2 separate regions of the Homo sapiens genome follow, and region 2 is linked to region 1. Evidence: fine-mapped expression QTL. Tissue or cell type: subcutaneous fat. Region 1 holds a variant in brackets; the other region holds the start of a gene. All regions are shown on one strand. Distances are between the middles of the regions.

Region 1 (8,178 bases):
CCTCCCGGGTTCACGCCATTCTCCTTCCTCAGCCTCCCAAGTAGCTAGGACTACAGGCGCCCGCCACTAAGCCCGGCTAATTTTTTGTATTTTTTTAGTAGAGACGGGGTTTCACCGTGTTAGCCAGGATGGTCTCGATCTCCTGACCTCGTAAGCCACCCGCCTCGGCCTCCCAAAGTGCTGGGATTACAGGTGTGAGCCACCGCGCCCGGCCTTTTTTTATTTTTTTGAGACGGAGTCTCACTCTGTCGCCCAGGCTGGAGTGCAGTGGCGCGATCTCGGCTCACTTCAAGCTCTGCCTCCCGGGTTCATGCCATTCTCCTGCCTCAGTCTCCCGAGTATCTGGGACTACAGGCGCCCGCCACCACGCCCCGCTAATTTTTTTTTTTTTTTTTGTATTTTTAGTAGAGACGGGGTTTCACTGTGTTAGCCAGGATGTCTCGATCTCCTGACCTCTTAATCTGCCCACCTCGGCCTCCCAAAGTGCTGGGATTACAGGCGTGAGCCACCGCGCCCGGCCAGCAATATCATGTCTTTTTAGGTTTCTTCAATTAGAATAGTTCTTCAGCTTTGTCTTTCATGACACTGACATTTTTGAAGAATGTAAGCCATTTATTTAATCGACTGTCCCTCCTTTTGAATTAGTCTGATGTTTCCTCACAATTAGATTCCGGTTGTACCTTTTTGGCAGGAAAACCACAGAGGTGATATCATGTCCTTCAGCACACATACATCAGGAGATATATGCTATCAATCTGTCCCATTTGTCCCTTGCGATGTTAACTTTGATCATTTGATTCAGGTGGGGATTATCAGTCCTCTCTACTGTAAAGTTATTATTTTTCTCTTTGAAATCAATAGGTGTTTTATGAGGATCTACTTTGAGATTGTGTAAATACACTGTTTCTCATCAAATTTTTACCCACTAGTTTTAACATCCCTTGATAATTCTTGCCTGAATCATTAATGACTCTAAGGTTTACCAAATGGTCATTTTCTAATTTTATCATTTCTTATACCTATATTAGTTGTAATTTTACTCTAAGGAAAGCCTTTTTCTTTTTCTCCATTTATTTATTTGCTTATATTAATATGGACTTAGATTTTCACATTTTATCCAATTTATTATTATTATTATTTTAGATGAAGTCTCCCTTTTGTCATCCAGACTGGAGTGCAGTGGTGTGATCTCGGCTCACTGCAGCCTCCGCTTCCTGGGTTCAAGCAATTCTCCCGCCTCAGCCTCCCGAGTAGCTGGGAAAACAGGTGCTCACCACCATGCCCAGCTAATTTTTGTATTTTTAGTAGAGATGGAGTTTCACCGTGTTGGCCAGGCTGGTCTCGAACTCCTGACCTCAGGTGATCCACCCGCCTTGGCCTCCCAAAATGCTGGGATTACAGGCATGAGCCACCGTGCCCAGTTGATTATTATTATTATTTTTTAAAAGTTCAGATTGTCCAAGATTTGAATGGGAGCTCCTTCCAGCTTCTTCTTCTTCTTCTTCTTTTTTTTTTTTTTTTTATTGAAACAGGGTATCTTTTACTACATAGCACAGGCTGGAGTGCAGAGTGGCTATTTACAGAGGTGATCATGGCTCACTGCAGCCTCAAACTCTTGGGTTCAAGCAATCCTCCCACCTCAGCCTCCTGACTAGCTGGGACTACAGGTGCATGTTACTGCCCCCCAGCTAGGGTTATTTTTGAAGGTGGATTCTCCAAAACTCTGGTCCAGGCTATTTCTCCAAATTATGAATGTTTAAACAGCATTCAAGAATCTAATTTTTAACATTATGAGAAAGCACAGCATCTATGCCAGTGAATTTTAGAGTTCCAACGAAATAACAAGATGTTTATTTACATACATTTTATAATCTTCCTAAAGACCAGACTCATTTCCTAAGTGAGGACATGACTTCCTCTCTCTTCTCCCGGTCCTGATGTATGTCCAGTCCATTTCACAGTAGACCTACTGAGGAAGTAGCAGGGTAGAGAGGAGAGTCAGGGAAGTGGGAAGGTGAGAGAGAAGTAGGGAGGAAAAGGAACAGGAGGAGAAAGAACTCCTCTCCTCTCCTCATTTGTTCAGACGGTCTGGCACCTACAGCCTCCTCATGTCCCCCAGCCCCACTGCCCCCTCCTGGAAGTCAGCGCACTGCTGCCGCTGGCATTCACATCGTGTCGGCAGGACGCCGCGTTGTCAGAGGTTAGAGACAGCCACTTTCATCTCAGAAAAGGGGCCGGGAGATGACCTGGGTTATATAGAAGGAACTCAAGTCTTCTTGCCGCAGAAATGCCACTGGAAGGGATGGAGGAGAGAAAACCCGGTTGTATGATGTCTGCATTGCCCTCCTCGCTGGAACTCACCACAGGCTGGAGGTGCTTCCGGCAGAACCGAGCTCCGGGGAAAGCCTGTGATAAATCATCTCTGTCTTTACTAGCCAAGGGTTGCTATGGCAATAGGAATACACTGTAGGTTTTAAGAGATGTAATTTTCTGTGATTCACTGTATATTTTTAGCCATTTTTCCCTCTGTATTATCTCCCTGTGGTAATTGCCTATTAATGCTGGTCTGTACTAAGATTGGACTAAACGGTCGATTCTCAGAAGAGATGAAAACCCTGGAGCTCAGTAAGTACAAGGGGGTGATGGCCCATGAACTTAAGAGTAACCTGGTAGAACAACCAGATTAGTTCAGGACATGGATGAATTCACGTGGCCCATGCTACGTCTGTCTTGGGAGGAGAGTAAAGCAGAGTGAAGGGACCCAGCAATGTGGCTCTGGAGTTTTGGGAATGGGAAGCTGAGTCACACTACCCACTGAAATCCATATGCTCGAATGGTGTCAAGGGCAGGCCACAAAAGTCAGAAACGAGCATCCTGCGCAAGGGACACTAGGACCCAGGTTTCCAAACAAAGGAACTGTAAAAGCTTCTAACCTTTTGTTTTTTTTTTTGTTGTTGTTGTTGTTGTTTTTTTTTTGAGACAGAGTCTCGCTCTGTTGCCCAGGCTGGAGTGCAGTGGTGTGATCTCGGCCCATTGCAAGCTCCACCTCCCAGGTTCATGCCATTCTCCTGCCTCAGCCTCCCGAGCAGCTGGGACTACAGGCGCCCACCACCATGCCCGGCTAATTTCTTTGTGTGTTGTTTTTTTTTTTTTAGTAGAGACGGGGTTTCACCGTGTTAGCCAGGATGGTCTCGATCTCCCGACCTCGTGATTCACCTGCCTCGACCTCCCAAAGTGCTGGGATTACAGACATGAGCCACCGTGCCTGGCCTCTAACCTCTTTTAATTTAGTTCAAGTCTTCTATTGTTTCTTATCTTATCCTTCCTTCTTTATTCCTTTCTTCTTTCTTTCCTTGCTCTAATTTTACTTTTTTTTTTTTTTTTTTTAACCGTAAAATCAGGGGAGAGACTAAGAGGAGGTGAAAACAGAATGTATCTAGTTGCTATTGGTTCATAGTTGTATCAGGGGTCTTTCCATCCAGGCCACAGAAAATCCAGCCTAAACTGCTTAAGCAGAAAGAGAACTTACTCTTTCTCTAATAGCTGAAAAGTCCAGGGGCTTGGGTTTAGTCTCAGGCACAGTTGTATTCAGAAGGCCAGATGACATCATCAACATCTGGGCTGTCTGACACACCACTAAGTTTCACTGATATTTGGGCATTTGGGCTGCAATAACATGAAACTCAGCTAACAGAGGCTTCAACAAAGTGTGGTTTGTTTTTCTCACATAAGAAGTCCAGAGAGAGGTTTATTTTTCTCATTCAACAAGCAGCCCAGAATAGGCATAGATGACGTTACTATGCAGCAGCTCAGTAATGTCATCAAGAACCCAGCCTCCTTCTTCATTTCAGCTCTACTGTCTTCAGGGTCACAGGAGGACAGGTCCAGCTCTAGACATTCAAGGCAGAAAGAAGAGGCTAGCTAACTTCCGATTTTTTTTTTTTTTATCCAGAAAAGTAAATCAATCCCCAAAGTTCCCAGCTGACCTCTGCTTCCAGTTGATTGAATACATCAGTGCCATGAGGCCACTTTAGCCACAGAGGAGGCTGGGAAAGTACGTTTTTAAGCTTTTTTGGTCCCTGCAGTAGAAGCAGTGTTTTTTGTTTGGTTTGGTTTTGCCTCATATAACAGTCAAAGAACAAACCGTACCCAAGATTGTGAAAGGGTTCTGCCTCTTCCTTGCAGTCTGACCAGTCACTC[C/T]GTTGTCATATCCTAGCCAAGAAGGGAGAAGGTATAAGAGAAGGGCAAGAAGCTTTCTTTTAAGGATGCAATGCATAAGTTGCATTCATCACTTCTCTTCTGCCCATATGCTATTGGTCAGAACATAACCACATGATCACAACCAGCTGTAAGGGTGGCTGGGAAATGTAGTACTTGGGTAGCCATGTGCCCAGCTAAAACTTGAGGAGTTCTGTTAGTCACATGATGAAGAAGAGGGGTATTTTGAAACAACTAGCAATCTCCTCAGGTGTAGTTAGAGCTCCATGATGTGCTCACTTCACATTGCATGCCTGTATCAAAACATCTTATCTACCCCATAAATATATACACCTACTATATACCCACAAACATTTTTTAAAAATAAAATAAAACAAAAATAAATTAAAAAATAAAAAAGAGCAGTTATAGGAGAAAGGGTTTGGATGGCTATTAGATTCACTCATTCAAGGCCAAATATTTCTGCCTCTGCCACATTCTCAGAGAGGCTTACCTTTGTGCAGGTAAGACAGCTTCAGCATCACCAGCCTCACATTCTCCCTGGTCCAAGACCATTAGTAAAAGAGCTCAACATCTTCGCAGCTACCCTGGGCAGTCTCACCACATCTCCTTGGTTCTTACTGGGTCACCTGCCCATCATTAACTAAGGGGATGCAATGCAATACTCTGGTCATTCCTGAATGACTTGCTCCACAAAATCACCAAGATCTTTCTGGGCCTCAGTTTGCTCATCTGTAAACTAAACATAATAAAACCTACCTCACAGGGTTGGTGGGAGAGTGCTGCTGGGGGACTCAGGCTGAGCTGGGGGTCATTGTCCATACATGCATTTCAGTTTGCCTACTGACCAGACTCACCTTAACAATATCATTTCAAAAAACAAGACCCTCTAAAATCAAAGTAATCATCAGTGGATAGTTAGCCTAGATCTCATCTTATAATATATTCCAAAGTAAAAATACTTGCTAGGTACCTGGCACTGTGCTAAGCACTTTGCATACCTTCTATCAAAACTCTCAAAGTAATTCCATGGGAGAGATACTTTCACTGTTTTCAATTAACAGACAAGAGTGGTGATGGGTGCCTGTAATCCCAGCTACTCGGGAGGCTGAGGCACAAGAATCACTTGAACCTGGGAGGCAGAAGTTCCAGTGAGTCGAGATCACACCACCGCACTCCAGCCTGGGTGACAAAGCAAGACTCTTAAAAAAACAAACGAATAAACAAACAAAAATAAACGAGTAAATAAACAAAAGGGATAAGGAAATTTAGCTCCTTGCCTAAGGTCACAGCCAGCACAGTGATGGAGCCACAAAGCCAGGACTAACTTTGAACCCCCACAATCTCCTCCCTCTTATTGTATAAAAATAAGTAAAAATAACCACATATTTATGAAATCACGAAAACCTTCCTGCTGATTGTGGTGGTCACAAGAAAGCACCTTTTGATGCAGGACAGATGAACCTCCAAATTGGGGCTTAGCCCAGGAAGGTTCTTGGCTTTGCCGAGGAGAAAATTCAAGGGCAAGCCAATGGTGTTGAACAGCCTTTGATGAAAGCGCCCAGTGCACAGGAGCAGCAGAGGTACTGCTCCTTGCAGAACAGGGCTACCCTATAGGCAGTGGGCCCAGAGTAACAGCTCAGAGGAAGTTCTGCACTCATTTTTATGCCTGCTCTGAATTGTATGCAAATTAAGGGGTGGTTTATGCAGAAATTTCTAGAAAAGAGGTGGTAACTTCTAGGTTGTCAAGTCATTGCCACAGAAAGGGGTGGGAACTTCTGGGTGTTGCCATGGTAATGGTAAACTGACAGGGCACAGTGATGGGCGTGTCTTATGGGGTGGTGCTTCTGCCCTGGACTTGTTTTAGTTAGTCCCCAATTTGGTCCAGTATCTGAACCCTGCCTTCAAAGTAAAGTCTCACCTCCTACCTCACTTTGATCTCCCTTTGAGAGAACCTGCTACCAGGAGTAGCAGGATGACAGCCTTACACTATGGATCCTTTGGGCTCCCTGCAGCCTTCACACTGAGGCCTCCCCCTCCCTGGGCACAACAGATGTACTACAGCCAGGCCAGTCCTGTCCAGTGGCAACTCCTCTGTTCTTGGGCTTCCCATAAGCCTGGCTGTGGCTTTCTTGGAGCTATGCTGTAGTCTAGATTCTTCCTACCCAACTCTCTTTCCTTTCCACTCTCCTTCAGCAAGTGCCAGGCCTGCACTGCTGCCTGAGGGCTGTCCTCACCACTCCTGCTCCCACACCCTATATCCTTCACATACATTCTCCCCCGTGCATTTATGCTCTGCCTAATTCCATCTTGGCATGTGTTTCTCAGAGGACCTGAAATGACACACTTCTTGTACCTCCCTTAACTCACAACATGAACTACATCACAGGCTTTTATGTTTCCAAAGATTTTTGAGTGTTAAAGAATAAGAAAGCAATAAAAATAATAATTCAAAATTGGGCTGTAGGGAAGATCTAATGTGGTCCAATAAAGAGGCTCCTAGCCTGGCACTTAAAAGGTAGAGACTCCTTCTTGAAGCAAGTTTCTGCATAGAGAGAAAAACAATAATCATTGCTGATCTTAAAAGAAACCTAGCTGCATTGGGCATTTTGGATGGAGAGGGTTAGAGGCATCTGAGACTTGCCTGGAGTCACTCCACAGGGTCACAGATAGATTTCAATCATTCTAATCCTCATCCAGAAGCTTCAAATGCTCCTGAGACAAGGAATTGATCCTTTAGCGAAAGAGCGAAGAATGCTACTTAACTCAGCCAAAGAAAAATAATGATCAATTGAGCAAAATGTACTGGCTTTAGACAAGGATCTCCAAACTGAAATGGAATTACTCTTGTTGCCCCTGGGAACACAAACCATGTGCCACAACTACGCTGCCCTGCCCTGCCTCATCCTACCTTAAGGCTTTTTCAGGGGTTACTAACTAGTAGCCACAGAGCAATGTGTCCTACAAACATGTTTTATCTGGTCCCTGTGGTCTTTTTTTACACAATATAAATTAGTTAAGATTTATCAAGTGAGATATTTCACATAAAAAATCTGGACTTCATGCTTCTTTTGGAAAATCAGAAAATCTGACAATATCAGCCCTACATGTGAACTTCCTGCCTCAAACAGAACCAGAATCTCTACTACTCCTCTCCTATTAAACTCCTATTAAACATGCTGGCTTTAACATGCTCAGGACCATAAACCTACTTGATTTTGAGCACTCAGATTCAGATCATGAGCCCTGGGTAGCACTTGGCTGAAGTTAACTGTCAGCTCTTTAAGAAAAATGAGTTAGTAACAATTTTTTTTTTTTTTTTGAGATGGAGTCTTGCTCTGCCACCTAGGCTGGAATGCAATGGTGCGATCTCAGCTCACTGCAACCTCCACCTCCCGGCTTCAAGTGATTCTCCTGCCTCAGCCTCCCAAGTAGCTGAGATTACAGGCACCTGCCATCATGCCCAGCTAATTTTTGTATTTTTGTAGAGATGGGGTTTCACCATGTTGGCCAGGCTGGCCTTGAACTCCTGACCTCAGGTGATCCACCCACCTCGGCCTCCCAAAGTGCTGGGATTACAGGCATGAGCCGCCGCCACTGCACCTGGCCACTAAATAAATTAATAGCATAAACAGGATTTCAAGAAGGAATTTCTTTTTTTTTTTTTTTGAGACAGAGTCTCGCTCTGTCGCCCAGGCTGGAGTACAGTGGTGCAATCTCAGCTCACTGCAAGCTCCGCCTCCTGGGTTCACGCCTGAGGCTCCTGCCTCAGCCTCCCGAGTAGCTGGGACTACAGGCATCTGCCACCACGCCCAGCTAATTTTTCTGTATTTTTAGTAGAGACCCGGTTTCACCATGTTAGCCAGGCTGGTCTCGATCTCCTGACCTCATGATCCGCCCGCCTCGGCCTCCCAAAGTGCTGGGATTACAGGCATGAGCCACCGCACCTGGCTGGAATTT
Region 2 (8,178 bases), 240 kb before region 1:
AGATTTGAAACTAATCCATTTTTTAAAAATCTTACAACCAAGCATGGTAGCTCACGCCTGTGGGAGGCCAAGGTGGGATGATCACTTGAGGTCAGGAGTTCAAGACCAGCCTGGGCAACATGGCAAGACCCTGTCTCTTTTAAACTTAGAAACAAACAAACAAACAAAAATCTTTTTAATAAAATAAAGGAGCCGGGTACAGTGACTCACGCCTGTAATCCCAGCATTTTAGGAGGCCAAGGTGTGAGGACCACTTGACCCCAGGAGTTCAAGACAAACCTGGGCAACATACCAAGGTCTCATCTCTACAAATATTAAAAAATAATTAGCCACGCATGGTGGCATGCACCCATAATCCCAGATACTCCAGAGGCTAAGGCGGGAGAATGGCTTGAACCAGGGAGTTCAAGGCTGCAGTGAGCCGTGATCACGCCACTACTGCACTCCAACCTGGGCAACATAGAGAGACAACCCCCAACCCCAATCTCAAAAAAAAAAAAAAAAAAATTAAAGAAAATAAAATGTTAAATCTACACATCCCCATATAATATTCTTCTGTTGGAGATTTTTTTACAGGTTCTTTAAAAATCAGTCGTAAATATCTTTTACTTTTAAATATGTTTAATTGTTTCACTATAACAAGCTGCAATGTAAAAACAATTCAAACTCCAAGAAAGAAACTCCATACTATACGGTAGTGAAATATGAGCCAGAGAATCAATAAGAGGATGCTACACTACTGTTGAAGACCAGAAGTTGATATCTCCTTTGAAAAGTATCAACAGAAGCAGCATTGATGCAGGGTACAAAAGTACTATAATAAAGCTGGCTGTGGTAGCACATGCCTATAGTCCCAGCTACTCAAGAGACTGAGGTAGGAGGATTGCTTGAGCCCAGGAGTTCAAGGCCAACCTGGACAAAACAGCAAGATCACATCTCTTTGGGGGAAAAAAAAAAAAAGGTACCATAATAGTAATACTTTTAGTTTCAGAGTTGTTTAAAAATCTTAATTTTATGTTTAGTAAAGTAACTTATTCAAGTTTTTTTAAATATTTACTCTTATGATTGTAAAACTTTCTTTTATATTTATCAATTTGCTATAATATGAAATGATGTATCCACCATTTAACTAAATCAAGAGATTTATTAAATGCAGTTTATCATAAATCAAAAATAACCATTAATGAAATGGAAGAATCTATTTACTTTATCAGCATTGAGATTCTATTTACATAATGAAGAGCTATGGATAATAAACAGCCCAAACACTATCTGCAAAAAAACCAATATTCCAATGATTTTAATATACATATAACTATCAGTTTCTAGGCTTGGATTTAAAGAATATGTGAATGGAAAGAAGTAAATTAACATACTAATTTATTACAGCTTAGAAACCTAAATGAAATGCCACAGGCCACAAAACAACTGCTTCGTATTCAAAGGCACACATTCAATTTGGTAGATCAGCTGGACGCACTGCATTATACTGCAGGAGATAAGGGTTAAGTGACCTGGGGATATTGTTCTCCAGATGTCTAAAAGGTCCATTTTTTTATTGGAATTATCTCTACTTTAAAAAAAAAAAAAAAAGGAATTATATCTACTTTTGATAAATACCTAGCTTACCACACAATTAATACCTTCGCCCATATAAGATTCTACTTGAAGCTTCGTTTTTGAAATTTTAGGATTGTAGCTATTATAAAAACAAAATTTAAGAACACACAACATGTACAATGGGTCAAGAATACATGCCTTAGATTCTGATGAACAGGACAAGAAGGTTAAGAAAATACTATAACATACTCTAAGTTTGGGGGTACATTTTAGAGATTTTTAAGTGAGAAATCCAATAAATCTTTAAGCATTTAGCTTTCCATTATTGCAGCGCATGAAAAGACTTTTTTAAACTAATTTGTAATACACAATATATTCACTCCACAAATAACTATGTACATATATATGCCCACATCAATTTCCTACTCTTTTAATTAAAAATTTATGTTTCTTTTGGTCATAAAAATCTGGTTTTGGGTGTTTTAAAAGTTCAAACAGCTATTAAGCTATACTTTGCTTTGGCACTAGCTCCCCCTCCAGACCAATGTACTAATATAACAGCATTTTTAAAAATAATAAGTTAACAGTTTTTTCCAATCCACTGGCAAATTTTAAGATTCACCACTTTTAAGGACACTCCAATTGCGTAAAAATAACTGGTAAGAATTTGCAACAAAACAATGCAGGATGTAATCAGAATTAGTTTTGTTTTGTTTTTTTCGATTCCATACATCTTAAACAGAACTGATTTGTAGGAAAACAACTTCAGGTGACTTTTTAAATTCAAAAATATCCTCAAAATATAACCTATATAAGGCCGTACTTTATGGAAATTATTTTGAATCACTATCCTATTACACAAGACACTCTTCAAGTTAACTCACAACTTGACCAAAGATACATTTTTGCATCTGTTTCTGCAATCTATGCAAGTTTCATTCCAGCTGTTCAGCTCTTGAATTCAAATAGAATTCTCAATTTATAAGGCAGCAAAAAGAAAATCCATGTCTTGGAACTACCTTTGTACGTGTCTTATAGCCTATTCATCTCTAACTCCCTGCATTTTTTACACACTAAACCTGTGAAATCACAATTACAAATGCTTGAATTCCCACCTTTTCAATACTACTGTAGTATTTACAAATCAAGTAATTAAGATTTTCTATACACATACCAGATTTCACAAGGACAGCAAGGTACAGGGCCTTATTATTTGGCATAGGGTTTTAAGATGTTTTTACAGTTATTTTAAAGAGCAGAGACTACAACTCCATTATTTCTCATATATCTGATATACTGTAGTGCTTAAATAATAATTTCTCTCCTAAAATACTTTCTATATGATGCACCTATTTAAAGAATTAGTCATAAAACATAGAATGTAAATTTAATCAAGAAAATAAACATGCACCTAACCGCCGGAATAACAAGAAAAAAAAAATCTATAATGAAACCTGCCTACAGTTTTCATAGAGGCAAGCCAGTTAAGTCAGTTACTTGAGATGCGTTTAACTCTAAACTGACACAAAACTTGTGTTGAATTTGTTCCGCAAAACCTTGAAATTTGGGGTTATGTACTACAGAATTTGGCTTTTCTGGGTCCACCTTCCTGAGTGGGTTTAAATAAACTGTGAATAATTAAAACATAGGAAGGAAAAAAACACCACCTGTCCGTGCCTTTAACCAAGGCCTCAATCTATATATTATATGGCAAAATGCTAAAATAAAAGCTCATCCGGGACAAACCCTAAGCATGACACTGCCACTTAAGAAATACACTGCGTCTCTGAAGATTGCAATCCCCACTGTGAAGAAAGAACAGGTGCTGCACCCGACAACCCACTCAATCCTGCAGGACAAACCTCCTAGAACTGATAAATATGGACTCATTTAACCTTCCCAAATAAGTTGATACTCAAAAGCCGCCAGCTCGTCATTTGCACATCAAAAGGGAGTACAGCTGCACTCAAGCCTTTAACTGCCCTGCATCAGTCCCTCGCGGATCTTTGTGAGGGTCCACTCCCTGCTTTCTAGCCCGAGCAGCACTCAGAAAGAGCCCATAACGCACGGGCATCTTCCTCCCCACAAACCGCGACTCCAGGGACCGAGCTGCTGACGAAGGGAAGGTAGGTGTGGAGGGGAAACGACGGACACCTCCCACCCCCGCCCCCAACCCTTCTCCTTCCCTAGGCTTTGGCCCCTGCCCTAGGCAAGGATGCGCGACGCCGAGGGCAGCAGCGGCGCAGCTCCGCGTCCCGGCTGGAGAGGCGGGCGCCCCTCACCCTCTGCCCGCGCCCCCGGGGCTGCGCCAAGGCATCCGCCAGAGCGTCCCGGGGGCTCCCTCCCCACTTTTCCGAGAGCCGCTGGTTAACCGGCAGCAGTTGCAGCAACAGGCCCGGGTGAACGAGCAGGGACAGCCGCGGAGCCTCCTCAGATCCCGCGCGCAGCCCAGCCCAAGACCCCGAGGCGCGCGGGGCCCGGCTCCCAAAACGCCCCCTTACCCCAGGCGGGAGCAGAGGCGGTCTCCGCCGCTCCCCGTCGCAGCTGCCAAAGCCACAGCCCTCAGCCGCAGCTGCCCCACGATGGGGGAGTGGGAAGGGTGGCTGAGTGGAGGATGCTACTCCCGACCGAACGGAGAGGAAGAAACGGAAACAGGAACCGCCGCCGCCGCTTAACGGAGCCTTCGGCGCCACTGACTGAGGCAGAGCGCGAGGCGGCGCGAGCCGGGCAGTCGCTGACAGCGCGAGACCGAGAGCGAGCTGGGTCCAGGGCGCGCGACCCTGAGCAGTGCCGGCCCCATTCCGCGGGGAGACGAAGGGACGGGTCGGCTGGGGCCAGGCGGCGGGGGTGGGATGGGGAGGGGGCCTGGAGAGGAGGGAACCGGCTGCTCGGGTCGGCCGGAGATAACGCGCGCACGCGCCGGAGCGGCTCTGACAACGAGCGCAGGCGGGGAAGCCTCGGCCAGCGCCGGCGTGCGCGCGCGAATGGGGGAGCGCGCCCCTCGGCGTTCCTGGCTTCTGGGAGAGGGCGCGCATGCGCCGGCCGCTGCCACCTACGGCGACCCTGGCATGTGCCAGGGATTCTCCCCGCCCCCTTCCTCGCTGCGCCGGTGGAGAGCGTAGCAGCAGCATCCACCGCCTAGCAGAGCCGCGGGCCACAGCGGGACGGCACAGTTCCAGCAGGGCAGCGGCTGCGCACGCCGGCTCCGGCTCGCACACAGGCGTAGGCCGCCCTCTACCGCCTGAAGGCCGGAGGCTGAGCGGGGCGCGAGCGGATCCTGGATCCCGGGAGGAGACTCGCCTCCAGAGAATGCTGTGCTCCCTACAGCGCCGGGAATGGACCGGCCCGTGCCAGCTCAGTCGGCGGCCCTAGGGGGCACCCGCACTAGAGGTTTTGAAGCTGGCTCCTTGCTACTTTTAGGGGTGCGCGCTGCTGCTGCTCAGCCCCTGCAGCCCGCATTTGGCCGCTTGACTGCTGCTTCCAGCGCGATCCTACAATGGCATCGCTCCCCCAGGAGACTCAGCGAAGCCCTACTTTATCTTGTAAGAGCTGTTTCCACATTCACTCGAAGAGAAAGACCCCCCCCACGAGGGCCTGAGTTCGATGCCCGGCCTCTCCCGACCCGCGGCTGCGACAGCCCCTCTGAGGCGGAAGTTTATTTAGTACGGGAAAGAGAACAGCACGGGGAGAGGGGAGAGGCTTTGCCCTAGGATGCGTCCTACCCGCTCGGACTCGGAAAATTCCCGGCGCCCGCGATGCAGAGCAGTGGACCGAAGGGCTGCCCCAGAGCAGCCCAGACCGCCAGCTGAGCGGGAGGACCGGAGCGCGCCGCCCCAGCACACAAAGTAGTCGCGGGACGAGGGGTGCCGCCGAGGCCAATCAGAGCTGCGCGCCGCGTGAGTGGAGTGCGAGCCGGCCAATCAGAGGGCCGGAAGATGAGCTTCCCGTTCCAAACTCTTCCCTGTAGCCTTGGGACCCAGATCCCAAGCCTGGGGCGCTTTACGGTGGGAGAGCGAAATGGTGCCCTTAAGACAAGAATCATTTCTCTAGGCTTGGGCATTTTAAAGTACATACCGGGGATACTTATCCCAAAGCAAGTAGCGGCGGCCTTTTAGATGTTAAATATTAAAAGATCACAGAAAGGAGATTTAAGAGGCAGTGGCCTGTCAAGGTTGCAATCTGCCTAATATTCATAAATTCACATATTTATTGAGACCTTCTTATGTACCAGGAACTCTATCACAGATACACAAATAAGGTACTGCTGATTCAAAAGAAAATCCCTTGTCCTCAAGCAGCTCAGGTTGTGAGGGAGGCTTTCCTAGACCTTGAGACTCGTATTTATTGTCAGCTCTTTAAACAAAAAGCACTCTATGAAGTGCTGTACTTTACAGTCGTTTTTATGATTATCTCCCTGTGAGAAAAGAAAATTGAAAGGAAAGTAGAGTGACTTGTCCAAGATCACACAGAAGATGTACTAGCAGAGCCAGAATTATGTTCTAGCTCAGTTTGGGTGTCATCATTCAATAAAATAATTCAATAACAATTTGTAAATGCATGGATGCTCTCTCCCATGAGATTTCTGTACTAAACGTATAAGCAGGACAAAATTCTGGTATAAAAGTGACACACTTTGGTTGTTGGAAATGAACACAAATTTTAGACTTATGTGGGATTAAAGGTAAAAATCTTACCAGTCATACTTTAGATAATTTTTAGAAGTCAGAGGTGGGGTGGATATTTACTTCTTAGTTTAAACACAGCATTTTAAAAATATTTTAACAAGCAAGCGTAACTTTTTTTTTTTAAGATAGAAGAAGCAGGAAGGATCACTTAAGCCCAAGAGTTCCAGGCTGCAGTGCCACATCGTGCCTGTCAGTAGCCACTTCAGCCTGGGCAACATAGCAAGACCCTCATGTCTAAAATTAAAAATAAAATTTAAAAAAAAGAACTACTTCTAGTTGGTTAATAATCATGATAGTTTACACTGTATAATACTTTGAGATACCCAAGTACAAAGCTTTACATTTGCCTAAAAATTCCATTTTTGTCTGGTGTTCCATTTTTACTTCCAAAATCCTAGGAATTAAAGCACTTATTTTCCCTACCTCCTTCCAACTGAAAAAAAAAAAAAAAAAAACCTGTCCTAGGAATGTTTTGCCCAGGATTTGGTGCATTTGTATAGAACAGTATAATATACGTTAAAATAACAAATAACTTTGGTATCTCTTGAATACACTCAGAAACTAATTCTTCAGTGGTTTTGAAGTCTGCTTTGTTGAATCAATGTGCTTCTCCACCTGTGATGGAACATTATTATCAAAACCCTTTCCAAGGCAGGCTCAGGATTTAGCTGCCATCCCAAAACTGGAGGTCTCTGTCAAACAACTGATATTTGAGAACAAGTCTTTACACATTAAGTTCCAAGCCAATCATGAATTTCCAGGAAATTCACTTATGAAAGGGAATTTTATACCCTGCCTCTTCTCAGTGTGGATAACAGTCCCAGCTTTTAAAAAATACATTTATTTTACTCTCTCCAGACAAGAAAATTCCTAGAACTCAGTCGTTCTCTTGCCAGGTTAAATTCTGAGAGAGAAGGAATCCCCCAAAAGGTTCTAAACATCACTGGCCATCAGAAAGTATCTGTGTCAAAAGCATTTTTCCACAAGCTGCAGGTCCCACCCTGTTGCTGCGCTCTCTCATTCTCTTCTCCCAACTGCTTGCCTCTGCTGCTCATCACTGCCAGTTTGTAATAGTTGCTTAAGTAAGTACAGGTACTCCACCTCTTACTCCACCCCTCCCTCACCAAACTAGGTTTTGGACCCATCTTTGCTTATCCCAAAAGTTAAAGACAAGTTCTGTTCAACAAAAGATTAGACAGAACAATCGTTATGATCTGTTATACAACAAGTAACAGGGCCTTGTCAGTGCATTGTTTTCTTGTATATAGCCTCGGTCAAATTCTTAACCATCAGCTAGAGCTATGGGGACTCGGGTGTCCCGGGGCAAGAAGGAGTCAACCCTTAGACTATGGAAAAGATCAAAATGAAAGTTAAAGTGAGTACATGAGTGGCCATTTTATTGAGAGATTAGCTAGATCAAAGTTAATGAACGTGAATGCTATCACATTTCCTAAGTTGTGAACATTCATGTAGAAACTGGTTTGAAATTTACTACCATTTTATTATGACTGTAATAAAAATAATAGCCAAAGTGTAATAGTGCTGAGCACCAGGCCTCATGCAAAACTCTTTACCTCCACCATTTAATTCTCAAATCAAACCTTTGAGGTGGATCCTGTTATTACGGTGGGGAGATCTGTGGAGTTCCAGCAAGGGGTTGAGGCACTCAGAAGGCTTAGCATAAGCTACTTACCAAATAGTTTAGAAATTTTTCTATCTCTACCAACGTGTACCAACTGACTGTCAGCCATGGAAGCATTCTGAATAATTGTTAATTGTTCTCGTTGTTTTATAATTGTTGCTCTAGCTACATTTCACTTACAGGATCCGATTTTCCAGGAAGTCATCCAAAGGGCAGCATTGTTATTGCCAAGAGCAAGAAGGGGTGACCTTGAGATAATCATTTTACCCATCTGGGCCTCAGTTTTCTCAT

Evidence for each region. PIP is the estimated chance that this variant, and not a neighbour inherited with it, causes the effect.
Region 2: it holds the start of FUT8, and the variant in region 1 is fine-mapped to the expression of FUT8 in subcutaneous fat (GTEx, PIP 0.96).

Annotation. Positions count from the first base shown.
Region 1 is chr14:65,165,100-65,173,277 of GRCh38, reverse strand. No RefSeq gene overlaps it. Among named protein-coding and RNA genes, the nearest start is that of LINC02324, 53 kb to the left of the region's middle. RefSeq lists enhancers at 2,119-2,288, 2,309-2,368, 3,932-4,031. The variant C/T (reference allele first, on the strand shown) is at 4,201.
Region 2 is chr14:65,409,098-65,417,275 of GRCh38, reverse strand. It overlaps FUT8 (fucosyltransferase 8), which reads right to left and starts at 4,546. Exons shown (of 11, transcript NM_001371533.1): 1 at 4,062-4,546. It overlaps FUT8-AS1 (FUT8 antisense RNA 1), which reads left to right and starts at 4,659. Exons shown (of 1, transcript NR_024334.1): 1 at 4,659-6,684. RefSeq lists enhancers at 3,241-3,805, 5,048-5,367 and silencers at 3,728-3,917, 3,928-4,047, 4,348-4,507.